4 linked regions of the Homo sapiens genome follow. The protein of the gene in region 1 purifies or fractionates together with the protein of each later gene. This does not show direct contact. Each region holds a gene or a part of one and is shown on either strand. Other genes may lie near its edges. The genes, in order: BZW2, MRS2, ENDOD1 and EXOG.

The links.
Region 2: the proteins of BZW2 (region 1) and MRS2 purify together in Homo sapiens (co-immunoprecipitation; 3 studies listed by BioGRID and IntAct, with this or other methods). This does not show direct contact.
Region 3: the proteins of BZW2 (region 1) and ENDOD1 purify together in Homo sapiens (co-immunoprecipitation; 3 studies listed by BioGRID and IntAct, with this or other methods). This does not show direct contact.
Region 4: the proteins of BZW2 (region 1) and EXOG purify together in Homo sapiens (co-immunoprecipitation; 3 studies listed by BioGRID and IntAct, with this or other methods). This does not show direct contact.

The regions. Positions count from the first base shown.
Region 1 is NC_000007.14:16,649,178-16,656,206, forward strand, and holds part of BZW2 (eIF5-mimic protein 1), read left to right. Parts: intron 1-7,029. UniProt on the Homo sapiens protein: Translation initiation regulator which represses non-AUG initiated translation and repeat-associated non-AUG (RAN) initiated translation by acting as a competitive inhibitor of eukaryotic translation initiation factor 5 (EIF5) function.
Region 2 is NC_000006.12:24,399,100-24,405,941, forward strand, and holds the start of MRS2 (magnesium transporter MRS2 homolog, mitochondrial isoform b precursor), read left to right. Parts: upstream 1-3,836; 5' UTR 3,837-3,947; coding exon 3,948-4,137; intron 4,138-6,068; coding exon 6,069-6,142; intron 6,143-6,842. UniProt on the Homo sapiens protein: Magnesium transporter that mediates the influx of magnesium into the mitochondrial matrix and regulates magnesium metabolism. Also permeable to calcium, sodium and potassium ions.
Region 3 is NC_000011.10:95,085,751-95,092,873, forward strand, and holds the start of ENDOD1 (endonuclease domain-containing 1 protein precursor), read left to right. Parts: upstream 1-4,095; 5' UTR 4,096-4,177; coding exon 4,178-4,477; intron 4,478-7,123. UniProt on the Homo sapiens protein: May act as a DNase and a RNase. Plays a role in the modulation of innate immune signaling through the cGAS-STING pathway by interacting with RNF26.
Region 4 is NC_000003.12:38,520,330-38,526,822, forward strand, and holds the end of EXOG (nuclease EXOG, mitochondrial isoform 1 precursor), read left to right. Parts: intron 1-2,843; exon of another isoform or gene 2,844-3,316; intron 3,317-3,571; coding exon 3,572-4,033; 3' UTR 4,034-5,974; downstream 5,975-6,493. UniProt on the Homo sapiens protein: Endo/exonuclease with nicking activity towards supercoiled DNA, a preference for single-stranded DNA and 5'-3' exonuclease activity.

The sequences.
Region 1 (7,029 bases):
ATTATTAATCTGTTTGGTCCCTTCTCATTCTACAGTATACATTAACTAGGTCAAATTTATCTTTGTTTCTCAGGTTTAACCCAGTGTCTTGCACCTAGTGTATGCTCAGTACAAGCTGAGTTGAATTCAGTTTGATTTCTAAGTTATTTTAGGTGGATTTGTTTTCCTACTTGACTAATCCTTCCTGGCAATGTGAGGTGAGGTGGCACTAAGCACGCACAATCATAACCAGAGGCAGAAAGTCTTTAAATGTTTTGGATCTCAAGCTTCTTGACATTCTGATGAATGCTATCAACCAAGAAAAATTGTTCTTGTGCACATGTTACAAATTTGGCATGCCATTCTTAGATTTCCCCATTAAAGACCCTGATTTCCAGCTCTCTACATTAGGAGAATGCTGCCTTTTTGTTGCATTTTTGAGTATTACATCTTTCAGGGTACTGTTTGTCTTGACATTTGACTTTTTTTCCTTAGACTTAGGTATCTTTATTGACTGGATATTTGATAATAAGAAATTTTGATTTTTTTAAGTTGGAAGTAGATTACGGTTATATTTTTAAAAGATTACTTATCTTTTAGAGATAGGAACAGAATTATTTCAGAACTGGATGAGAAGACAGCTGAGATTTGCTTTAATATAATTCTGTGACAGAAAGGAAGAGAGACTGAATGAGAATATAAATGAGATAAAATTGACTATGTTAACAGTTGAAGATGGGTGATGAGTATATTCACTTGATTATACTGTTCTCTCTACTTTTGGATATATTTGAGATTTTCCATAATGAAGTTTTTAAAAAGAAAATTTGGAAGTATTACAGCCTCTAAGAAATCTTTTTTTTTTAAACACAACATAAGAAAGTAATATAAATACAAATGTTCTTTTTTCTATACTTGGAGTTTCGCTTATGTGATTATTCATTTAAGTGTTAAAACAGTTACACCTAAATCTGCAAAGAACTGTCTTGTGAACAATGCGTTTCCATAAACATTTGACATCACATTTTAACTTCTCCAAAAAGTAAAAGGTTGGTGGCATTACTCAGTGCTTGTAGAACAAATTGATGAATATCTTACTGGTAGTTAATCTTCATCTTTTTTGAAAAGAAAATTCTGAAGAAGGGGTACAGATACATTTAGTTTAACTGAGAAAATCAAGAGGTGAATGAAGTGGAGATACTGATGTTCTTCTGTGCGTCATAATCCAACTCAGAAGGCATTCCAAAAAAAAAGAGTACCAAAACTGTTTCGAGCAATGTCAGCACTGATAGGATAAGTATTAGTCTAGGAAAATCAGGAGCAGGCCCAGGACAGGGTGTGACTGGTAGGTTCTTACTCAGTGTTTGCTTAGCTGAATACTTAATCTGACACCTACTTTCTAATTTGTGCAATTTTTTAAACTGATTTTTTGATCTTTACAATTTTTTATTGTGTTTTAGATATATTAAATGTCCTTTATAACATGTCATCCTAGACTTTGGGATTTTACAAGAATATTTAATTAATATGAAATCCACCAATCTTAGCAGGTCATAAACAAGAATACTTTTCATTCTTAACTCACTCATTTCTGTGTATTGAGGCCATGGCGCTCTTTAGCAAGTATCTTTTGGGCAGTTAGGTGCCGAGTGGAATGATTTGCCCCGTTCTAAATTTGGCGTGTATTAAGTGAAGAGTGCCAAAATTGTTCAGGTAGTCATATTTGTAAACTATCTATTTTGAAAATAAAGATTTGAATAACTCATTGAATGAACCATTCTTTAAGGTTAAATGCCAAAAAGATAATGTTCTCATTATTCTTTCTTGATTTTTAGCAATAGGTGTTTCCATTGATGTTTTTTAAGTTTATTCAAAAATTAAAGGAAAAAAGTATAATGACAAAAAGAAAGAATAATGCCCTGTATTAATATTTAAGATAGTATAATCCTTTGGCTATCTTTAATTCCATTCTGAAAATATTAATATTTTAGTAGGAAAACAATAACTTAAGATGTAGAATTATTTTTTGTGTCAGATGTAGCATTATATTTTCTTTTTACATCTCAACTTATTTTTATGCTAGATGAGAACTTTAAAAAATATAACAGGTGTACTGTTATTTTTGAGGACTTCTAAATAAATCTCAAGAAAAGCCCTGGGGCAGAGATGAATAATAAGGGATAATAACGTTTAGCACTGTAGAGAATATATCATAAGCTACTATTGGATGATATTCTACTGTCATCCTTTTTATATATCCACACAGAAGACTTTAATGGTTTTCAAACTAACCTGGATTTATGGTCATTTCTAAGAAGAAAAAAGAAATGTTATATGTTTTTCTCAGTGAACAAGGTAATTGAATGGGACTATTATAAACAGGAAAGAGAACCCCTAGTTGTCGGTGCAGAGGAAACTGCTGGCTGGAGGAAAAGGATGCGGTGTTAGTATTTGGGAGTGTGAAGATTGTGTTTGTGTTAGAGTTGAGCTTCTGCAGGAAACAATTTAAAAACTGTATCCTATAGTGCTAGAAATTATGGTGCCATAAATTTTCTAATATTCGTATGTCCCTAAGAGGCAATATTGTTAAATTCTCTCTCTAAAGATAAATGCCTTTTCCCCCCCACCGCTTAATAGAACTCTATGGAGAACTCTTTGGTATTTTGGAAGTAACATATGCTAATTCAATTTATCCAAGTGCTGAACTCAACTTTAAATTAATATTTATGCGCTACTCCATCTTATTCCAAACTATAAAATTTATGAGGCAAATAATGAAAAAGCTGTCTTCGAGAATCATATAAATAATTCTCTAAGACATTGCAACAGCTTTAGTTGGCTCCTTGGAAAATGCACTGAGTGGAGACAGTGGATCAGGTTCTGGCCCCAACTCTTCCATGTACATAAGCTCCAGATGGGCAGGGATCGTTCTGCTTTGATCTCCACTGTCTTACCAATGCTAGAATGGAATTCCTGACCTCAGCCAAGTGGTTTGACATCTCAGTGCCTTATCTGAAGGTTAGCTTAGGGACTGGGCTTACATCCATGGTTTTCAAAGTATTCCATTCCGCGTGGATGCCACTTGTAAGTTACAAAGTAAAAAAACACGCACTTAATTATTAAAACGTTAATAAACACAACTGCATCTCGAATGCATCATATGTTGTCTTTAAACATACTGGAGACAATCAGTGCTTGCTAACTTGTTCTGCCCGATTGTGCAATACTTGGAACAAAGCTCCACCTGCTAGAAAGTGACCTCCATGAAATTTGCCTGATTTAGTGCTTGCTGCATCCCTATTGACTAGTACCAGACCTGGTATATTTGGCAAACAAATAAATGAATGATTCTCTGTAGGTTTAAACCTTTTTCTTTTGAGACGGAGTTTCGCTGTTGTTGCCCAGTCTGGAGTGCGATGGTGTGATCTCGGCTGACTGGCTGACTGTAACCTCTGTCTCCTGGGTTCAAGTGATTCTCCTGCCTCAGCCTACCGAGTAGCTGGGATTACAGGCGCCTGCCACCATGCCTGGCTAATTTTTGTATTTTTAGTACAGACGGGGTTTCACCATGTTGGCCAGGCTGGTTTCGAACACCTGACCTCAGGTGATTCGCCCGCCTTGGCTTCCCAAAGTGCTGGGATTACAGGCATGAGCCACCATACCTGGCTTAAACCTTTTTAAAATGTATGATTCAGAGAGCTTGTAGCTCTGTACTAGTTCTTTTTTATTTCCTTTAATTCAATTTTGTATGGTCCACTTCTGTAAAGTTGTGTTGGGGAATCCAGTCCCATGTCATCAGCGTGCCCTAGACTAGGCTTGGCATTTCTATCCAGTTCATGCTCTCATTATGTAATAAGCATGCATATGGAAAGTAACTTTGTGTGTGTGTGTGTGTGTGTGTAGCCCTTCAAATAAAGCTTCACCTGCTAGACAGGCTTGGGCAGGTCCCCTTCTGGGAGGATGGGAGTTTCTTGGTTGAGAGAACTAGTAAGTGAGCCAATATTTGGACTCATGCCCACCACCACCTTTGAGCTTCCTGAAGGTCCACTATTACGATTTTTAAGCAATTGCTCCAAAACAGAATTCTCTCACTGTCTACCAGTCTAGGCCTTACTTTTCTTTTTATTTCTTTTTTTTCTGAAGATTTTATTTTCCTCTTTTCCATGATTAAAAATCCTCTGAAGAGAGGCAAACACTTCAACACTCTTTTACTTTAATAACTTGTCTTCTGACTTCCCACTGGAGTAATAGTCACCAACACTCCCATCAGTTTTGTGTCTGTCTTAAACTAACTTGCTCTCTGGCATTGCCACTCCACTTCTTGCTGATTTTCATCTCCTGGTTCTCCTCACCTCAGTTAGCAAGGCCAGTGTTGTGTGTGCTGTCCATAGCTCCTTTCCTCTAGGTGGAAAGTAAATCTCATATAAAATCATCTTTCTCCTCTACTATGTAAAGCTCAACATGTATTTAGGTATCTTCCAGTGAAAAAGCACTTTTCTGGAGGAAGGAACATTGGAGATGAGAATACTCATTAATAATAAATATTACTTTTGTCTTCAGTGGAGGTGAAAATCTCGAATGCATAGGCATTTTCTAAAAGGTTACATAGGATGATGTTAAAGGGTTTAAATTATTATCATCTCCATGGAGTGGGGCTAGGATATAAGGTCAAGAGTGAAAGATTGGGAAGAGCACTACCCTTCTGTACTGTGTTGGGGTTTTTTGTTTGTTTGATTTTGTTTTGTTTTTGCCATCAGTGTGTTATTACTTTAAAGTTTTAAATCACTAGTTAAAATAATATAGAGACTGGCTGGGCATGGTGACTCATGCCTGTAATCCCATCGCTTTGGGTGGCCAAGGTGGGCAGATCACTTGAGGCCAGGAGTTCGAGACCAGCCTGGCCAACATGGCAAAACCCCATCTCTACAAAAAAAAAAAAAAAAAAAAAAAAAAAATACAAAAATTAATTACTTGGGAGACTGAGGCACGAGAATCCAAGGGAGGCAGAGTTTGCAGTGAGCTGAGATTGTGCCACTACACTCCAGCCTGGGTGACAGAGTAAGACTCTGTCTCAAAAAGTAATAATAATAATATAGAGACCATCTTGCTTTTTTCTAAGCTTAAAATTATAATATTATTAACAAATTTCAAGGACATTTCCTTCTCTATAAGAGTTTCTGCTTTTCCTAAAGTGATGCAATGGAACAGATGACTTTTAAAATAAAGATTCAGAGAATATCACTGAATCAAGTTATATAACTCCAAGTCCAAATGCAAATCATTTTTAAATTGTATTTTAGCATAATATGAGAAAAGATGGTAGAATTTAATTTTAATTTTTTTCTGTATATAACCCCCCCCCCCCAAAAAAAAACGGATGATATTTATTTATTTATGAGACGGAGTCTTGCTCTGTCAGCCAGGCTGTGATACAGTGGCATGATCTTGGCTCACTGCAACCTCTGCCTCCAGGGTTCAAGTGATTCTCATGCCTCAGCCTCCCAAGTAGCTGGGGTTACAGGCGTGCAACACCATGCCTGGCTAATTGTTTTTTTTTTTTTTAGTGGATACACGGTTTCACCATGTTGCCCAGGCTTGTCTCAAACTCCTGACCTCAGGTGATCCGCCTGCCTCAGCCTCCCAAAGTGCTGGGATTACAGGCATAAGCCACCGTGCCCAGCCTGTATACTATACTGTGTTTAAGTGTGAACAGTGGTCATTACTGAAAGTTAGACTGATAGATTTTTTCTAATTTTTCCTTAAATATTCTATAATATACATGATGAGCTGACCTTATAATCAGTGATTTTTAAAGGTTACCTCTCACTTTCAAATAAAGATGCTGTTGTTTCTCAGCTTAATCACCTACTTTTTTGCTTCTGTTCAGTATTTTGTCATAAAAACCTGGTTGGACACACCAGATAGCTTCAAAGTGGCCACCTACTTTTTTCAATGGATTAGACTCTGAATGATCTCTGGCGACTTTCTAAAATTAAATCCTCTATCAAACAAGGAAATTTCTCATCATTGAGTATAGTCAAAAGAATGATCTGTAGACTCCAGAGGAAATTCTAAAAAAAGTTTCATAAATCTATTAATTAAAAGGGGTTTTGTTTAATGGAAGCATTATTAGTTCATAGTTTTTCTTTATTGAAGGAAGAAATTACTTTGATGGGTAAATGCTGGAAAATGTTTTTTTAAATTACTTAAGTTACTATGTAACATTTTTGTTTTTAACTGACATATAGTAATTTTTCATATGTGGGGTACAGTGTGGTGTTTCCATATACATATACATTGTGTAATAATTAAATCAGGGTGATTAGCATATTCATTACATTGAACACTCATCATTTCTTTCTGGTAAGAACAATCAAAATCCTTTCTTCTAGCTCTTTTGTAGTATATGATACATTATTGTTAACTATAATAACTCTATTGTGCAATAGAACACTAGAGCTTATTCTTCCTAACTGTAACTCTGTACCTGTTCACCAATCTTTCCCCATCCCCACCTCACTCCTATTCTCCTGTCTCCAGGAAACTACTATTCTACTCTCTACTTCTGTGATACCAACTTTTTTAGATTCTACATGAGTGAGATCATATGATATTTGCCTCCCAAAGTGCTGGGATTACAGATCGGAGCCACCATGCCATGCCCTAAAATACATATGGCTTCCTGTGTTTGCCATTGCTCCAGGGTTCTATGTGTACATAATCAGTTTTATTTCTTAATCATTTGAGAGTAGGTTGCATACACTTTCTGCCTTTATCTCTTATTTCTTCAGTATTTATTCTGTAAAAATAAGATACTTTTCTTACAGAACCACAGTGCAAAAAAAAATTCAGTAAATTTTAACATAGATACCATAATTTTATCTTTATACTCCAACTTCTTAGGTTGTCTCAATAGTCATATATATGTGTGTGTGTGTGTATGTATATATACATATATATGTGTGTATATATATAAATGACTATATATATATATACATAAATATTTTTTCCCAGTACAGCATTCAGTCCAGGAATGTGTATTGCATTTAG
Region 2 (6,842 bases), on another chromosome or scaffold:
GGCTCACGCCTGTAATCCCAGCACTTTGGGAGGCCAATGCGGGTGGATCACAAGGTCAGGAGATCGAGACCATCCTGGCTAACACGGTGAAACCCCATCTCTGCTAAAAATACAAAAAATTAGCTGGGCGTGGTGTCAGGCGCCTGTAGTCCCAGCTACTTGGGAGGCTGAGGCAGGAGAATGGCGTGAACCCGGGAGGCGGAGCTTGCAGTGAGCAGAGATCACACCACTGCACTCCAGTCTGGGCGACAGAGCGAGACTTCGTCACAAAAAACAAAACAAACAAAAAAAAAACTGCTCCTTTCCAAAATTCCCTATCTCAGTAAATAGCACCAGCAAGGCCCTGCTGTTCGGGATACACATTTTGGAGCAACATCTATGCCTCTCTTTCTCTTATATCCCATCTGCAAATGTTGTCAACTCAGCCTTCAATATATGGTACCAAGCCCAACTCATCTTCCCCTCTCCACCATCCCCACCTTAGCCCAAACCATCATCACCATCTCTCTGCTTCCAATTGCCTCTCTGTAGTCTCTTTCCCACACAGCAAGAGTGACCCATTTAAACATAAATCAGATTGTTACCTCTGCTCATTACCTCTCTGCTCGAAGTCCTCCAATGGTTCCCACCCTTCTCAGAAAAATCTTTGCCACGAATTACGAGGCTGTACGTCTGGACAGGTTCCAGAGTTTTCCTTAGACTTTGCAAAAGTTATCTTAGAGCTGTCTCATTGTGCTGGGTGCAAATTTTGTTTTAAAGAGAAAGTTATCACATATTTTCTCAAAGAAGCATCTCTGAAGGCATGTAATATGTTTGAAATACTTATCTCATCATTAAAGCTTTAGTAAAATGAAAAATCTACCAGCCATGTTCTCTATACTCAGCGATTTTCCAGACTTCAACGCCCTGGAAGCAATGATTAAAGTTTTTCTTTGCCTTCAATTATCTGAAGGGTTGGGCTGCCCCTCCACACCTGTGGGCATTTCTCATCAGGTAGAATGAGAGACTTGGAAAAGAAAGAGACACACAGACAAAGTATAGAGAAAGAAAAATGGGCCCGGGGGACTGGCGCTCAGCATACAGAGGACCCGCGCCGGCACCGGCCTCTGAGTTCCCCTAGTATTTATTGATCATTATCAGGTGTTTCCTGGAGAGGGGGATGTGGCAGGACAATAGGATGATAGTGGAGAGAAGGTCAGCAGGTAAACACGTGAACAAATGTCTCTGCATCATAAACAAGGTAAAGAAAAAAGTGCTGTGCTTTTGATGTGCATATACATAAACATCTCAATGCCTTAAAGAGCAGTATTGCTGCCAGCATGTCCCACCTCCAGCCCTACGGCGGTTTTCCCCTATCTCAGTAGATGGAATATACAATCGGGCTTTACACTGAGACATTCCATTGCCCAGGGACAAGCAGGAGACAGATGCCTTACTCTTATCTCAAATGCAAAGAGGCGTTCCTTCCTCTTTCACTAATCCTCCTCAGCACAGACCCTTTACGGGTGTCGGGCTGGGGGACGGTCAGGTCTTTCCCCTCCCACGAGGCCATATTTCAGACTATCACATGGGGAGAAACCTTGGACAATACCTGGCTTTCCCAGGCAGAGGTCCCTGCGACCTTCTGCAGTGTTTTGTGTCTCTGGGTACTTGAGATTAGGGAGTGGTGATGACTCTTAACAAGCATGCTGCCTTCGAGCATTTGTTTAACAAAGCACATCCTGCACAGCCCTTAATCATTTAACTCTGAGGTGACATAGCACATGTTTCAGGGAGCACAGGGTTGGGGGTAGGGTTACAGATTAACAGCATCTCAAGGCAGAAGAATTGTTCTTAGTACAGAACAAAATGGAGTCTCTTATGTCTACTTCTTTCTACACAGACACAGTAACAATCTGATCTCTCTTTCTTTTCCCCACATTATCAAGTCAAACATCCTCTCTTCTGTGAAGGCTTCTCTTTGTGCACTGCCCTCCTACTCCATCCCCAGTCCCAGTACCCTGCAGAATAAAATGTTTCTATCTCTGTCTCCTTAGCTTTGTGTCCATACATAGATATTGAAAGGAAGTCTGTGGAACTTGTGTCTGCCTTGTATTACTACTGTGGAAGGGACAATAAATTTATTAACTCATATTTTTAAAATATGCATACATACTGTATTTAACCTAAGACTTTTTTCATATTTTAAAGACTGGAATTGAGATATGTCTTTCAATCTACATGTTTAGAAAGCATAACTTATCAGTTTTTTTTTCTTTCTTGGTGGTACATAAAATAATGGTACCTTAAAATTGATGCTATCTTACATTTTATTAAATATGGAATAGAAATCTTATGTGTCTGTGCTCCTCATTCTTTATAGCAAAAGTTTAATACATGACATCATTCCATATGACAGTTGATTATTTTTGCCACTACTGGGGCTCAAACCATAATACCCCAAAATATGATGTTTTGGCATGCTGAGTCTTTGGGGTTTGTTTGTTTTGAGATGGGAGTCTCACTCTGTCGTACAGGCTGGAATGCAGTACAGGCTGGAATGCAATGGCATGATCTGGGCTCGCTGCAACCTCCACCTCCTGGATTCCAGCAATTCTTATGCCTCAGCCTTACAAGTAGCTGGGATTACAGGCACCTGCAACCACACCCGGCTAATTTTTGTATTTTTAGTAGAGACGGGTTTTGCCATGTTGGCCAGGCTGGTCCTGAACTCCTAACCTCAAGTGGTCCACAACATTGGCCTCCCAAAGTGCTTGGCTCCCAAAGTGCTGGATTACAGGCATGAGGCACCACGCCCGGTGGCATGTTGAGTCTTTGAATTAAAGGAAATTAAAAGGGTCTCAGAAAGAAGCCTAAAAATCAAGGCCTCTCTCTCTCACCTTCCCCCTTCCTTTTGTCTCTCTGATACTCTTACTTTTTCCAAGCACCTGAAGGGGCTCTCTTTTCCTGCACAGCCAGATAAGGAATTTCCTTATCTGACAGAGAAAACTCTTTTCCAAAGAAATGCAATTGTCTTAAAACCCGTTCCTTAGGAATCGCATTAAATAATCAGAAGAGATTAATCACCCAGAGAAGAGACAAAAACTGAAAGTCATAGCCACACTGAGACTTTTCATAGATACTTCTGAGGGTAGCTCCAAGAGATTACCTGGGAAACTTTACCTGTATAATAGGACAATTTTTGTTCAGAGTGAAGTTTCACAGCTTGTCCACAAGCGATTGTTTGTACTTCTGTCCCACTGAATGTCCAAGGAGAATCATTTGCAAACCACTGTCTGGCTTTCGGGCCCATTCATACCTATCTCCCTCTACTCAACAAAGAAGGGTATACAAGCATCTGGACCTTAATTGAGTTATTGAGTAATCACTCTTCTGTGATTTTTCCCTATGCACGTTAAGCAAATTTTGTATGCCTTTTTCTCCTGCTAATCTGTCTACTTAGTTCATTCCAGCAACTTTCAGAGGGCAAAAGTAGGAGCTTTCCCTCTTGCTCCCTACACCACGTTAAATTTAAATATAAATTAAATGATGTGGGAATGGGTAACCTGCTCATTTCCAAACTGCAATTTTCATAGGTATGAAAATTCTCCACAAACTACAAAACCATGACACTCCAAGCGCCCAAGAACCTAGGTTGGACAGCTCACTTAGTGCAGGTAAACGTGCTCCACCCATCTCCCAGCCCGCCTGCCCCCTCACTTAGGTACAGGTGCAGGTACAGGTAGGCAAGCAAACGTCTATTGGCTGTGGACTTAACAGGCTCGCCCACAGGTACCTTCCGAGCATGCGTGGGGAAGTAGCACGCAGGCGCGGCACGCCCCGCGCATGCCTGGTGCACAGAGTCTGCAGGTCGGGCGGTAGCGACAGGTCAGAGCTGCGGCCTGAGCAGCCAGCGTCCGGCATGAAGGTCTGGGGTCTGGCTGCTGCCTGCTTCTTGCTCCAGCACCATGGAATGCCTGCGCAGTTTACCCTGCCTCCTGCCCCGCGCGATGAGACTTCCCCGGCGGACGCTGTGTGCCCTGGCCTTGGACGTGACCTCTGTGGGTCCTCCCGTTGCTGCCTGCGGCCGCCGAGCCAACCTGATTGGAAGGAGCCGAGCGGCGCAGCTTTGCGGGCCCGACCGGCTCCGCGTGGCAGGTACTGCCCTTCCCCGGCAACAGCCTTGGGACGCTGGTCTTGCAGTGACCTTAGACTGCTGCCCCAGCCGTCCGGCGCGGCGCGCCTGTTGCTCCGCGCCCTCCGCAGGCCTCGGCCTCCCGCGTGTCCTGTGAGCTTGCACAGGCCCGCGGGCCGAGCTGCGTCCCACTCGCTCAGAATGCGACCTTGCTATGTGCGCTGTGCCCTGCCGGGGTCCCAGCGGCCAACCCTCTGCCTTCTCCTCCACCGCCCTTGCTGCAGATTATGTAACCATAGGAACAACCTAGGAATCGTTTACAGACCGTGATCACGTTAGTTAACACCCGCTTAAGTGCTCTTGTAAGAGGTTTTTTCTGTGTTGTTTTTGAGACAGGGTCTTACTATGTTGCCCAGGCTGGACTCAAACTCCTTGCCTCGAGCCATCCTAACGCATTAGCCTCGCAAAGCGCTGGGATTACAGGCGTGAGCCACCACACCTGGCCGAGAGGTGTTTTTAAACAAGGATTTCATCTGTTCGGAAGTCATAAGTATAAATTAATACTTCCCTGTTTTCTGTTTCTTCGTTATGGACACATTTATACAGTTGTCCAGTTGCACGGAGATTGGGGACGCACCTAGAAGTGAGGCTAAAGACTGAGTTGTTTCTGAGAACGACTTACTTTCAACTACAGTACTCTATAAGTAAACAGCCAGGGAGATCGGATTGAGAAAAAAAAATCTTATTTGCTGTTTATTTTTTCACCAAATGTTGAAGCATGGTGAAAAGTTAAGATTTTCACAAATGTGAGTGCAAATATTTGAGGAATAAAAGGTATTGAAATGAATGACTTTATTAAGAACATAGCAGTGTCCTCAAATATGTTTTCTCAATTGTGCTCTCAAAAGCCTCCCAAAGTAACTCCTCGTCAGCACCTCATTCTCCACTTATTGGAGAGGCTAAGTTGGGTTACATGCTCTGCACCCTCAATTGATAATGCTTGGGAATCCAGTTTCAGCAAGTTGGAGGAAACTTTTAGGACAAGCATTGACGTTCACAATCTCAATCCCGGTTACACTCTAATTTGTGACATTAAAACATTGAAAGGCATTTGTAATCAGCAAATGCCTTTTACCTTTATTCATCTTACCCTTATAGTGATAATTTGTATTTTGTAAAAGGGAAATGAAACTTCAGATACTAACAAATTACAACAATCATTACGTGTATGTAGTAGAAAAAAGATCAGAAATAGGTTTTTTTTTCTACAGTCTCTGGAATCAGTGTAATTACTTTGGAAGCACAAAACAGTGTCCTCTGTCAGTCATTAAATGTACTTGATTATACTTCACCGCTCACTTCGACTCAGTCTAATCACGTTTTAAATAGACAATTTTAAAATAAAGATTTGTCATTTCAGCTCAGTGGGGGTATTTCATAAGTATTCACTATAAAGGATATCTGTAGAAAAGAAGTAAAATCATAGGTTTCATAATTTATGAGCCAGTCAACTGGAATGCTTGAAAGATCAGGTGGTACTTAGGACCTATGTTTTCTAAAATGTATCTACTACCAAATGTGCATGAAGAGTCTTTTAAATTATGCGAAAAGGAAGACCAGACATTTTCTTAAATCTCAGAACACGATGTTGCACATTTGTTCATCCAACTCTGAGATATCAGTAATAATTAGAAAGGTAAAAGGGTGATTGGAATCCATCAGTTATTTTAATGCCTCACCTAAGCCATTAGTTTTAAAAATCATTCCCTGCCAAACCTAAGATAGTCACTAACAGATGTTAAAATTAAGAAGAGTATTTCTTCTTTTCTTATAGGAAAAATATTTAAAAATAATAAAATAGTCTGAAGGCCTCCACATACTTTGAGAGTTGTATTTTAGCTCTATGTGAAAACCAATCATGTGACCACAGGAATTCTCTTAATTTATTCTTCAGGTGAAGTGCACCGGTTTAGAACCTCTGACGTCTCTCAAGCCACTTTAGCCAGTGTAGCCCCAGTATTTACTGTGGTGAGTATGTACAGTACATTGGAAATCGTACAGAAAGTGCTTCCCATACATAAGTTAACTCGTTGGACTGTTGGCCAAGATACTACTTATTTTGAGCTTTATAATCATCATAGCTACATGTCGTGGCTGTTGTGCCTGGCCAGTGACCTAAGTGCCTGCTAGATTTGCTTAACAATGATCTTGAACCTTTGCTAATGACTGCAGCTCCCCTTTTAATACTAGAACAGGTCAATCACAATTCAGAGCCATAAAGAGGCTTGAACCTATGTTCTGCAAGATAATACGCAGGCAGAAGCATTTTGAAGGCAGCAGAGAGTAGTATTTAAAAATGCATGCTTTGAAAGGTCATGATCTCTAACTTTTCTCTGAAATGGTTCGGGGGTGGGGATGAGGGGGGAAATGAATGAATAAGATAATGTATCACACGTATTTTTAGAGAAAGAAGGCTGTTGGGGCAAAATGTTAACAAAGGTGACTCTAGGTGAAAGCTCTATGGGAATTGGTTGTAATATTCTTGCAACTTCTTTGTAGGCTTTTTTTTTTTTTCCAAAAAAAAAAAAAGTCTTGATAAAAAGGTGTGCCGGCCGGGCGTGGTGGCTCACGCCTGTAATTCCAACACTTTGGGAGGCCGAGGTGGGCAGATCATGAGGTCAGGAGATTGAGACCATCCTGGCTAACACAGTGAAACCCCATCTCTACT
Region 3 (7,123 bases), on another chromosome or scaffold:
AAAGCTAGATGAAATGAGTGAAGGGATGAGAATGGGTGGTGAGAATTCCAGGACAAGGGAAGTAGTTTATGATGCAAAGTTTCAAAGACTAGAGAGAGCATCAGGCTGAGTTCAGTGGCTCAAATCTGTAATCCCAGCACTTTGGAAGGCCAAGGCAGATGGATCGCTTGAGCTCAGGAGTTCCAGACCAGCCTGGGCAATATAGCAAAACCCTGTCTTTACAAACAATACAAAAATTAGCTGATGTGGTGGCACACGCTTGTAGCTGCAGCTACTAAGGAGGGTGAGGTGAGATGATCAATTGAACCCATGACATTGAGGCTGCAGTGAGTTGTGACTGCACCATTGCACTCCAGCCTGGGTGACAGAGAGACCCTGTCTCAAAAACAAAACAAAAGAGAGAACACTGTGCATTCATGGAAATATAAGAAGCTGAGCGTGTGGGCAAGGTGGGAGTGGAGAGAGATGAGGCCTGAGAGGGAAAGGCCAGGTCTCTGGGGTCATGGAAGTCAGCTAGTATGTCAGGCTGCATCCCAAGGTAAATGGAGAGTGATTAAGTGCTGTAAGGGTAGGGTGACATCATCAGATTTATGTTAGGAAGTCATCCCAGCTGGAGAGTGGATTAGAAGGGATGACGGGATAAAAACTGGGCATGACAAATGAGGATGGCTTGGTCAAAGGTGTGATGGTAGAGATGCAATTATCATCAGAGCAGTGAGGCAGGGGAAAGAAGTGTCTAGTTGGGCTCATATTTTTAAATAACTTTGGACAGAACCAACCAAGCCACAGAAGTGCATGTCAAATGTTTTATTCCACATCAACCATTACTTTTCATCCTCAAGCCTTTGCTGAAGGCTATGGAACCCAGCTTTGGCTGGGTCTGAGTGCAGAGACCTAAGAGGATCTGGTTTGAAACCTCTTTCCCTGTGAGAAGAGAGTCAGTGACCAAATGTAGAGACAGCAGTGAATTATTGATGGACCTACATGTTTTACACATACAGATGCTGCTAAAGACAGTTTTCCCCTAAAATCAGCAGTTAGCAAATGTTTTAATTAGATCAAGGCATTCCTACCTTGTAGGTTGTTCCAGAATCTTGGGGTGAGAACATTTGTAATTTGCAAAAGTAATATTTTATCTGTGGAAGGCAAGCACATGGAAGAAAAATCTATTGTCTTGTACTATAAACTAAAGAAAATAAACAAAATCATCCTGGCTGTGGGATGTACAAATGTTCAGTGTTATATGTGTGTCAGTCACTGATAGAGGGCTGGGGAAAAAACTAAAGTCTGCCACAGGGACTGAGTGGCAGAGATATTTATGCTTATCAGAGGTGGCGGGCAGGCATCAAGAAATTTTGAGAAAGTGAATTAAAGTCTTATAAATACTTTAGTCATAAAGGCCAATGATGATTGTATTATACTTTCTGCATTTGTTAAAATACAACATAATCATATTTGGCATCTAATCACTCCAGATTTTGTGGTAGCCACTGGGATCCACCAACCACCTTTGTCCCTAGGAGCACATGATTTAATAAAGAAGACAGATACAGGGACTATTAACACTCTACCATGATAAGTATCATAACAGATAAATGTTTAAAGAACTCAGAGAAGAGAGGGATGGATTTCTAGTTGTTCAACTGTGTTTATATATCTTTATGGTAGACATCATAAGTCAACATTGGGGAACCCTATATTCAACCTTATAAAATAATGTAAATATTTTTAAAATCCTGTAAAACCTATAATCCTCCCAGCATCCCAGGAGCAGCATTGTCCCTGTGGGAGGACTTGATTGAAGCCTACAAGGATGAGATGACTGAGATACTAGTACCAGATGATCAGGGTCATCATCCAGATCAAAGGGGACTTCAAGTCTAGCCTCTTCTGTGACATCACACTAAATGTGTCCCCTCCTTTTTTTAAAAAAACTAAGATACAAACTTTGGTTTCATTTCTGGGACCAAACATAGTCAACATTTTCCGGAATTAAAACCTGTAAGAAATTTGTTCTTAAGTTCCAATGTATAATCTCTTGAAGAGCTTCCTTCTTTATGGGCTCACCTTACAGATGCGCTGTGAGTTAAAAGAAAAGGCCAGGCTTGGGAAGCAGAGAGACCTGTTTCAAATCTGTCTTAGGACTCACTGGCTGTGCCAGCTTAGGCCAGAATCAACAGGCTCTGGTCTCAGTCCCTGTAGTGGCACACTGGGGAAACAGATGACATCGTAAGATGAGCACAGGCCCTGGCCCTGGGTAGCTGCCTTGACCCTATCTCTGCTGCCACCATCCTACCATCCTGGTCCAAGCTACCATCTCTTATCTGGATTGTGGCAATTATGGGGTGTTTTTCTTTTCTTTTCCTTTTCTTTTTTGAGACAAAGTCTGGCTCTGTTGCCCAGGCTGGAATGCAGTGGCACAATTTTGGCTCACTGCAACCTCCGCCTCCTGGGTTCAAGCGATTCTCCTGCCTCAGCCTCCCAAGCAGCTGGGATTACAGGTGCCCGCCACCACACCCAGCTAATTTTTTTGTGTTTTTAGTAGAGACGGGTTTCACCAAGTTGGCCAGGCTGGTCTCAAACTCCCGACCTCAGGTGATCCGCCTGCCTCAGCCTCCCAAAGTGCTGGGGTTACAGGTGTGAGCCACCCATTTATTCTGTGCCACTTCAATCTACCAGTCTCTTCCCTGATAGCAAAAAGAATCGAGTCACCACCTTTAAAAGATGAAAATCCTCAACATGATTTACAATATTTTTTCCAAACTGCAGGTCATGAGCCATTAGTGGCTCATAGAAACAATTTAGTGGGTCAACACCAGCACTTTTTTAAAAAAGTGAAGTAGAACAGAAATATGAAATTGCAATGCCAATCATAAGCATAAGAATTATTTCATCAAACTTTTCTCATTATGGGCCTTCTCAAAAAGTGTTTGAAGGCCTCTGGCCTATAATAACCTGAGTAATATGACCCCTGCCTCCTCCTTTAGCCCCACTTCCCATCATCCCCCACGCGGTTCTCCGCGCTTTACCCACACTAGCCTTCCTTAAATTCCTCCAATACATCATGTTCCCTTCTGTGGGAGACCACTTAGCACATGGTTTTCCTCCTTGCCTAGTTAATGTCATCCTCCAGGTCTCAGCTCAGATGCCACTTCTTCAGGCAAACCTTCCCGGATTACATCCTGAACCCCTGTAGCTGTCAGGGTCTCACAGATCTGTGTTCAGTTTTTAGTTATCCCTTTAATAGCATGTTTCCTCGGTTAATGACAAACTTTCCCACTAGGCTGTCTTTGTGACCGCAGGAGCCCTGCTCTTGTTTACCCCTGTGGTAATCCAGTGCCTATCTCAGGCTGGCACCTAGGCATTCAGAGGGATAAATGAAGGAAAGAATTGGCCAACCTGTTGACCAATGACGTTGGCTGGCCTCCTTCCTTGCTTGGTATCGGTTTTGTTTCTAACACTTGCACCAAGAAAACCACACAGGGTTATACTGTCTGCCTAGTTTAGGAACTTCCTTTAACAGTATTTCTTTACTCTCTGAGTTTCTGGTGAGCTAAAAAAACATAACAAAAAACAAAAAACTCCATCAAAATTGTATGCGTGTGCTGGTCGTTGAGTACTTCGGTGGAGAGTGGGAGACGCATCTTCATGAAATTTCAGAGGGGAACTCTGCCCATCCACTCCGAACCAGCCGCAGCTCCACGAGCATCTCACGCCACCCCTCTGCATCACCAGGGCGGCCGTGGGGCGCGCGCGATCAGCAGGCTTCTTGGCGCCCAGTCCATGCGACTATCTCTTCCCAGCCCCGGGACTAGGCCCGCCCCACTCGGATTCTCCACTCTTGGTAGCGCGCGTCCCCCGGACTGCTGAGACCAGGCGGCGCGGAGGCAGGTGACCCGCGTCTCCAGTCCCGGGCGCAGCCCAGGGTACGTTGTCAGCATCGCGGAGCGCGGCCCTGGGCCTCTGCAGCCATCTTCAGGGAGGGAGGCGCGGCCTCCCGACGCGGACCCGCCCCCGCCGCCCGGGCCGCCCCGCCCGGCTCCGCAGAGCGCCGCGCCTAGGTTGCGACTTCCCTTCCCTACCCTGCTCGGCTGCGTAGTGCGCTCCCCGCCCAGCCTGCAGAGCTCGCGCCGCGGCAGCCCAGCCGCTCGGCCCCGCCGCGCTCGCAGAGGCCGCCATGGGCACCGCGCGCTGGCTCGCGCTGGGCAGCCTCTTCGCCCTGGCTGGGCTGCTGGAAGGCCGGCTCGTGGGCGAGGAGGAAGCCGGCTTTGGCGAATGTGACAAGTTCTTCTACGCCGGGACCCCGCCTGCGGGGCTGGCGGCCGATTCCCACGTGAAGATCTGTCAGCGCGCGGAGGGTGCTGAGCGCTTCGCCACCCTCTACAGCACCCGGGACCGCATCCCCGTGTACTCCGCGTTCCGCGCCCCGCGCCCTGCGCCCGGCGGCGCCGAGCAGCGATGGCTGGTGGAGCCGCAGGTAAGCGAAGTGGTTCCCGAGCCGGGCTGCGGGCGCCGGAGACCGTGCCGCTGGACATGCCCCCAGTTGCAGCTACCGCGAGGGGCGGGCCGGGAACAGCAATCCCTACGCCTTCGGTGCCTTGGGCCAAGAAACCCGGGTTCCAGGTCCACCCTGTTGCGTCCCCGGAGTTAGCCTGCCTCGCCCCTGTCGAGCTACAATAAGAGCCTGGCGATCTGCGAGCCTTCACTTCATGAGCTGCAGGGCGGGAGGTCCCCTGTGGGAGGAGGTTCTCCCTGCATTTCTGAGCAGACATCCGCAGTGTTTCATTCCTGAATGGTGAAGAGCTTGATACAGAGACCCTGGAGACCGTTCAGATCCGCAGAAAGCCTAGGCTGGGCGCTCACAGGCCTTCGTGCAACTTATTGCCATAGCACTCATTTGGAGGTGGGTAGGTGGGCATTTTCATCCCCATTTTACAGAAGAGGAGATAAACCCAGGGGGTGAAGAGACATATGGAAGACTACCCAGTTAGTAAGATGGGGCAGGTCTCTGTCTAGAAATTCACTGCCTTTTCTACTAAGTAAAGCTTCTCTTCTGCAGAGCTCATCCTAGCCTGAAAATCCTTCCTCTACCACGGCGTTGAGTAAATTCGATCTGCGGTTGTGTTGAATTAGAACAATGAAATAAAGATACAGATTTTTAGAAACGCAATGGGGTAGTTAAAAATGATAGGGAAACATTGACTACCTCCAACTGATGGAAAGATAAGCCAGTTTTTCCTGACTCCTCATATCTATATTATCATACCACTAGGAAATCGTGTCACCTCTCATGGTGTTCTGTCCCGTCTGGTAAAGGTGACCAAACACTTGAGAAGCCCTCAGAGTCTTCCGAACCTGCTGGCCTGCTCTTAATACCTCTCCTCAGTTGGCCTCCTCTCTAGAACACCCTGCCAGACTCCCCTTTGCCCTCTCACCAGCCTCCCACCCCTGCCCAGGCTGCTGGGGGAAGAACTGACCCAACGCTCTCCCTTTCCTGACGGCCACAGCTGCCCAGGACCACACCAGTGGACAGGAGGCTGGCTTTCAGGTGCTTTATTCAGAGCCTGTGGGTTGTAATCTCATTCAGATATTTCTAGCTCTGAGGTCTTGGCCAGGTCTCAAACAATCTGCACCTAGTTTTCTTATCTTCCTCACATCCTTCCACCTACCTCAACTGTTGATAACACTTGTCGAGATCAGGCATGTGAAAAAGACGTTGTCAGTTGCACACACAAGACACATTTAAATCCAAAATTAGTTTTCCACCAGCTGCACCCCTAGAGCTCACAGGGTGTTCCCCACCTCTCATCTTGCATTGTGATTGTGTGCCTGCGAAGAAAACAAATGAGCTAGTTCTTTCCCCTTGATCTCATGGACAGCTTGGGGAGACAGAACATACGTCTGAGGAAATCATGGGAATGGATGCTAAACAAATTTCAGTTAAATTCAGAACACATTTAGTGACTCCTGCTGTGTGCCAGATATTTGGGACCAAGAGATCTGAGTGCAGTTCTGGAACAAAGGCTACCTGATCTGCAGGTGGAGTTTGCTGGGTGGAGAGGTGGTGTAGTATCTGATTAGAGCCATGCTATGTGGGTTCATATCCTAGTTGCTCCACTGACTAGCTATGAACTTGGGCAGGTTAAATTGGAGATAATAGCATAGGGTGGTGTGAAGATTTAATGAGTTACCATATATAAAGTTCTCAGGTGTGTGACACATGAGTACTAAGTACTAGCTGTTGCTATGACCTAAGCAAAAAACCATAATTTAATAAAGGTGAACAAAGTCCTATTAGATTTAATCTGTCTTTGAGGTGATGGAAGCAAGCCTTAGGGTCAGGATGACATTTCTGCTGTGTGTGGAAAGATAAGGCAGAGTTTAGAAGGGAGGCAAGGAGGAGGACATTTCAAGCAGAGGGAACAAACATCATGAGTGAGAAAGGCATGGCAGATTCAGGGATTTGTGCGTGAAGAAGTTGGAACAGGTAAACTAATACAAATAGATGAATGCACTCAATTGCTCAGAATAAAAAGGAATCATGGAAGGGAGGGATCAGGTGGGGAGGAGCCACCAAGGAAGGCTTAGGGAGGCAGAGCCATTTATGCAGCTAGGGAAGGAGTGAGTCGTAAAGGAGCATAGTTTGACAGAAAGAAGTACAGGGAACCAGGTAACATGGAGACCCTGGGTGAGATAATGAGGAAGGGGACTGTGGAGATTAAAGAAGATGGGAAGGGAGGGTGGAAATAGTTACAAATGGCAGCTTGAGAGGTAAGATGTACAGCGGTTCTGAAGAGTACAAGGGGCCTGAGTTCCTGCTGTGCTGAGAGGTCAGAATGGTCACTGTGGCTGAGCACTGCAGGATGCTTTTCCCTGCAAGGTGGCTGGCCTCCCACATCCACCCGCTCGACCTCAAGTCAAGTCAGCCAGGATCCAGAGAGTATTGGGAGAGAGGGAGGGAGGAGGAGGTGTGAGGTGCAGCTGGGCCTGGAGTGCACTGCAGCAAACCTGCCCCCACTGTTGCCTGCTCCCTGAGGCCCTGCCTCCCAGCCAAGATCCCCACTGCAGAAAGATGCTCAGGGCTCAATGTGTACCCTTGGCGGCTTCCAAGCATTTTATAATG
Region 4 (6,493 bases), on another chromosome or scaffold:
CTCCCAGTTGACTTCCAATTTTTGCTACAGTCTTGAGTAGAGTTCAGTGCTTCTTGGGAATTTAATAGCAGCAAGGGTTTCCTTTGCAAAATATTTTTATACCTAAATCTTACATGAAAAGGGTTGTTTGCTGACTCACTGATTAACTAGACTTGGTTTATGTTAAGCCTTTGAGTCCTTTGTTACAGACATCATTTGTGCCCAAGTTGCTTTCTCCTCCTGAAACCCCATTGCTGACCTGTAACTAGTCTAATCTTGCTTGATTATACGTTTCCCCCGCCCCCATCCCTCTGTAAAACCATCTTTTGTACCAAATGCCGTTGTATCTTTTGAATGATGTCCACTACAAAATAGCTTTTTACATAGATCTTGTAGATTTTGAAAAATTTTTAACTAACATGTCATTGTATCTTCATAACAATTCTATGAGAGAGGCATTTATAAAATACAAAATAGCAATCCACCCACGGGGATGGCTGTTACGTATTTTGTAAATGAAGAAACAAGAAATGGGTGGACGCGACTTGCAGCTTAGTGGCAAAGCCAGGTTTGACCAGGTCTCTGGGCTTCCAGTCCACCAAACCTCTAGTAGTGTTTAGAAACATTTCTGGAAGTCTCCCAATTTTTCCAAAAGTAGGAAAAATTTATTATGTAGATTGAGTTGTCTTTAAAGAGACAGCTCTAAAATATTTTACGATTGATGTTGTTTTAAAAAATTGTCTTAAATTCAAGGAAGAAACGGTGTGTTTTTCTGAATACCCAACTAGGACCTGTCCCTATATTAGACAGATTAAAGATGTTTGCTTCCTAAGAACAAAGCAGACTGAATCAGAAAAGAGATTAGTGAGTGGCTAAGTTTTTATTTTTCTCCTTAGTTCTAGGGATAGTATTTTACCCCCTTGAAATAGTGTGAGAAGGTCATGGGTAGAAGGATCACACCTGTGATTCCTAATAGGAATTTCTGTTTCCATGAGGTTTCTCAAAAGTAGAATCGAGGTCCTTTAGCAATTGTAAGAGTTTTTAAACACCTATAGAAATGGTACATTTGCATAAAGTAAAGCTGTAGAACTGAAAATGTCCAACGTCTTTACTTTTGGCTGGAATTTTACGAGCCTGATTAGCTCTGCATGGCAGCAATGGGCATGTTAATTATATTTGAAAATTGCCGTTTGTTTGTAGACAAGGAGTCCATGAGGAGAGAAAATCAAGTGAATGTTCTTGAACTGTACTGCAGTGATGGGGAATGTCCACAAGGTGGCGCAAAGACTTTGTTTAACTGCTGGATTCCTAGCTAGCACCTGGAATACTTGAAGCCCCTTTCACCTTCTCCCTCTTTGCAAACTATGGCTCAGCTGCATCTGTGCCCTCAGTTCTGGTCCCCAGCTTCCCCTGAATCCCCTTCGTGCTGTTATTTGGGCTTTGTATTGGTACCTAACCACATTCTACCTGTAGTGAAAGCTGAAGGTCTTGGTTCCCACTCTAGGTGGTAAGTTTCTTGAGTGGAGGCACCAGCTGCATATACTTTAAAGCATATTCTTTTCTGTATTTCCAGCAATGCCAGGCACAGGACCTCTGAGTTGCATTGTTGAATTAACATCTTTTGGTTATTTGTGAGTTAATTGTGGACTTCCATAGGGTTCTCCCTCAGTATATTTTTGGCTTTGAAGAGTATGTTTATCTTCCCAGCTGCATAAATGAATTTTTGGGGTGAAATGGGGATTTTATGTTTGTAGTACATAGTTTCATAGACTTTACACCACACCCCGACCAACCACTTTCAGTAACTTCGAAGACAGTTGGTTATGGAAATCATTCCCGTGCACGGGTCTTCCCTGAAGCTCTGCAATTGGTCTTGGCAGTGGGACCTTCATGTGTGACAGACAGCAGATGGCCATGGAGTTCCCAGGCTGTGTGCCATGTAGGTAGGAGCTTGAAAAAAGCAGAAAAGAAACCTCCTTTGTAGCTGTCGTGTCTCTGTCTTATTTGGGCTCACAAGAAGGAATCTTGCTGCAGGCAGAGCTGTCTGATCAGGAAAGAAAACTGACTCTTACCAGGGAAGGGCCCGGGAGGGGCAGTAATACCAATGAGCATGTTTTAGTTGGATTATGTCAGTTATTGGGGACCATTAAGTAAATAGATGTTGAGTATTTTCTTTTTCAAAAAAGCCTTTTTGTTTTGTTTTGTTTTGTTTTGAGATGGAGTTTCGCTCTTGTTGCCCAGGCTGGAGTGTAGTGTCACAATCTCGGCTAACTGCAACCTCCACCTCCCGGGTTCAAGTGATTCTTTTGCCTCAGCCTCCCGAGTAGCAGGGATTACAGGCATGCGCCACCACGCCCAGCTAATTTTGTATTTTTAGTAGAGATGGGGTTTCTCCATGTTGGTCAGGCTGGTCTCAAACTCCCAACCTCAGGAGATCTGCCTGCCTTGGCCTCCCAAAGTGCTGGGATTACAGGCATGAGCCACCACACCTGGCCCAGATGCCAATTGGAAGGAAATTTGAAAAGGTTTAGTAATAATGTTATTTCATTAATTTCAGCCAAACCACACAACTAATTTATGTTTTCTAGGCCTGACCCTGGCTCTGGCTTCTTCATTGTGTGGATACCTTTCCAAAATGTTTGATATGACAACATATTTAGAAGTTCTTTGATCACAAGCCCAAGGATGTGCAAAACTCAGAGCAAACAGCATTTACATTTATGTAATTTAATTTTAAAAATTAGCCCTAATTGAAGTGATCCTGGAGATGGTAATGTTGACTTGACACCTGGCTGCTTCTCTAAGGGCTATCTGTTTAGTTCCCTAGTGAATTTCATAAACTAAGGCCATGTTTTTATTTCTAGAGCTGGGAGTACCCAAGCCTGCAGTTTTGACCTTTGAATGTTTGGAGCACCAGAAGTTCTGATTATGAGATGAAGAGAAAATGACAGCTTTTCTTGTCTATTAAAAAACCAGGACTCACTCATGGCATTCCTTTGTCCTTTGTCCTACAAACAGAACAGAGACTGTGACCCCTGATCTTTGGGTTGGCATTATTTTATTTTTATTTTTTGAGGTGGAGTCTTGCTCTGTCGGCCAGGCTGGAGTGCAGTGGTGCAATCTCGGCTCACTGCACCCTCTGCCTCCTGGGTTCAAGCAATTCTTCTGCTTCAGCCTCCCAAGTAGCTGGGATTACAGGCGCCTGCCACCACACCCAGCTAATTTTTGTATTTTTTTTTAGTAGAGATGGGGTTTCACCATGTTGGCCAGGCTGGTCTTGAACTCCTGACCTCAAGTGATCTGCCCGCCTTGGCGTCCCAAAGTGCTGGGATTACAGGTATGAGCCACCGTGCCTCACCTGGGGTTATATTATTTTAAAGAATGTGATCAGAATTGACCTGTTAAATACTCTTCTTGTATGTGAATCTCTGAGTCAGTTTATTATTTTTGGCAGTTGAATTTAAATTCATTAGAACAGAGTGGGATGGCTTATAAGTACATTTCAGCAATGCATTAAATAAGTATTTTTCAGAAAAAATTTGCGAACTGTTAGCACAAATTGGCATCACTAATATGGCTGCTTTGTTTTTAGGTGATTGGCGAGGACAACGTGGCAGTCCCCTCACACCTTTATAAGGTAATCCTGGCCCGCAGAAGCTCAGTATCTACCGAACCACTGGCGCTAGGGGCCTTTGTGGTACCCAATGAAGCCATCGGCTTCCAGCCCCAGTTAACTGAATTCCAAGTGAGCCTCCAGGACCTAGAGAAGTTGTCAGGACTGGTGTTTTTTCCTCATTTGGATAGAACTAGTGATATCCGGAATATCTGCTCTGTGGACACCTGTAAGCTCCTGGATTTCCAGGAGTTCACCTTGTACTTGAGTACAAGAAAGATTGAAGGAGCCCGATCAGTGCTCAGACTGGAAAAGATCATGGAAAACTTGAAGAATGCAGAGATTGAACCAGATGATTACTTTATGAGTCGCTATGAGAAGAAGCTAGAAGAACTCAAAGCTAAGGAGCAGTCAGGAACCCAGATAAGAAAGCCATCCTAGTTTTTATCTCAAGATGTGTCATACCGTCTGTAATGAAGCAGGCATGCCCTCTTTAGGCTAACATATTTTAGTGGCTTTGCTTTTTGCTTTTTAAAAAGTTTTTCTCTTTAAGAGATGTGGTCTCGCCGTGTCATCCAGGCTGGAGTGCAGTGGTGGAATCATAGCTCACTATAGCCTCAAACTTCTGGGCTTAAGCAATCCTCCTGCCTCTGCCCCCTGAGCAGCTGGGACTACAGGCACACACCATCACCCTCAGCTACTAGTGGCTTTGCTTTAAAGAAACAGTGGAATCCTAAATTTATGACTAAAAATTCCCCCAAAAGATGAAAGATCTACAATGTTTTTGTCAGTATTATATTTGACTCAGGAACTAATTATTAAGGGAGCTTTGACACCTGCAGATGGAGGGCTGATCTTGTGTCAAGTTAACAGGAAGACTGCCCACAGATGACACTGCATTTGTATCCCTGTGGATGTAGAGTATTGGGAAGGCATTTGTTTAGTTTCATGCCTCCAAACCATGCATTGTCTGTGATGTATCTGCCCAGCCTTCTCAGAACTCAATGTTGTACATTTTTCCCTCTAGGACCTGAATTGGTCTTGGAGGCAGCTTTTAGAAATCCTCTGTGTAGTTCCTGTCCACATGCACTATATATTTGTTTCTTTTTTCTCCTCTCATGAATCTGCTCGTTTCTCTACTTCTGTCTACGTAGAAGCACTCAGCAACTAGTTTCTGCTCATTAAATGTGTTCTATATACTAGGCTCAGTGCTTTACATGTGTTGTCTCACAATGACTCTCTGAGGTAAATACACTATCCCCATTTTACCTGTGAGAAAATTGAGGCTTAGAGAGCTTAGTGTCTTACCTGAGTTTCACTTTTCCAAAGTAGTCATCCACAAAGTATGAGGCAGACAGATCTAAGAGAAGAAAGACAGCTGAGGTAGATTCAAATCTTTTCTGACATGGATGGTGGCTTTTTACTCAGAAATATATACCTATTTCCATGGGTATTTGTGGGCCTGAGGCATGCTTGGCAAGAAGAGTCTGGTTTCTCGTCTGCTATGCAAGCCAAAGGGACTTTAATGTTCTTTGAATTGAACCCTCCTTAGCTCTGTGGAAAGAGACAGTCAGGAATATTTGGGAATTAGACGGCAATACTTTGTGGGGTTTATTAGAGCCCATGCTTGCCTCCAGAGATACAGTTCTTTTAGTGACCAGATACTGCCAAATTGATGTGTTCTTGCTTTCCAGGTGAGCTTTTTGTTCTTAAGATTAAGAAACCTATGAAGGATCTGCAGCCAGGCATGGTGGCTCAGGCCTATAATCTCAGCACTTTGGGAAATCGAGGTGGGTGGATCGCTTGAGCCCAGGAGTTTGAGACCAGCCTGGGCAACATAATGAAACCCTATCTTTACAAAAAAATACAAAAATTAGCTGGGCGTGGTGGTGCACACCTGTAGTCCCAGCTACTCGGGAGGCTGAAATGGGAGGATTGCTTGAGCCTGGCAGGTCAAGGCTGCGATGGGACATGGTCATGCCACTGGACGCCAGCCTGGGCCACAGAGGGAGACCCTGTCTCAAAAAAAGAAAAGAAAAAAGAAAAAGGTCTGCCCACAAAATCACTAGCTTATTATTTGCTTCCTGTGTGCCTGCTTGTCTACCTAGCATAGTAGGCCAAAGGTCCAAAGGCATTTAGCATTCCTAGGGGAAATTGTGGCTGTTTTTCTGAGCCAGATCTCTTGATTTGGGTTTACACGGAGTCCTTTCATGGACTATCCTGAGTATTGTCAGTAAAACGTCTTGGGGCATAAGAACTTGTCTGAATCTGTCATACATACCACTGCTGTCTTTTCCGAGTGGTATTACAAGAAAGATTTTTGTGGTGTGTTTGTTCTAAGAGAAATGCCAAGGCTTTCAGATAAAGATAAGATGATAATGATTGACATTGTTCTGCTCTTTTATTTGGGTAAAAAAGGAAAGTTGAGGGGTCAGAACACAGTAGCCTGATTAGTACCATTCTGTTTTGTCACACTGTTCCCCATTAGCTTGTACCAGTTCTCCTCTTCTCGGGGATGTAGAGCCAAAATGTCACTGTGACCAAACAATCTGTTCAATTTTTTCTCCTCAATGGAGAGGTGATGGTGTGGCCTGGGTGTTTCTCCAGGAGTGTGAGTGGGCAGCTCTGTGGGATAAGTCCTAGGTACCTACTGCCCATCTCTAGAGGCGGGCCCCCAACTCCCTTCCCCTGTTGCTCTGTTCTGCCGACCTGCATTGCCAGCAGCCTTGGAGTTACTTATGCTCTTCTTGCTCGTTCCTCTCCACCTAGATGGTAGAATCTCTTATTTTTAGATCAATGAAGTTTTTTTTTTTTTTTTTTTTTCCACTGGGGCATTCCTGAGTTTATTTGGGGCACACCCGGGTGAGGGCCCTGCCCCTAGAAGAAGGTGTTGGGCCTCTT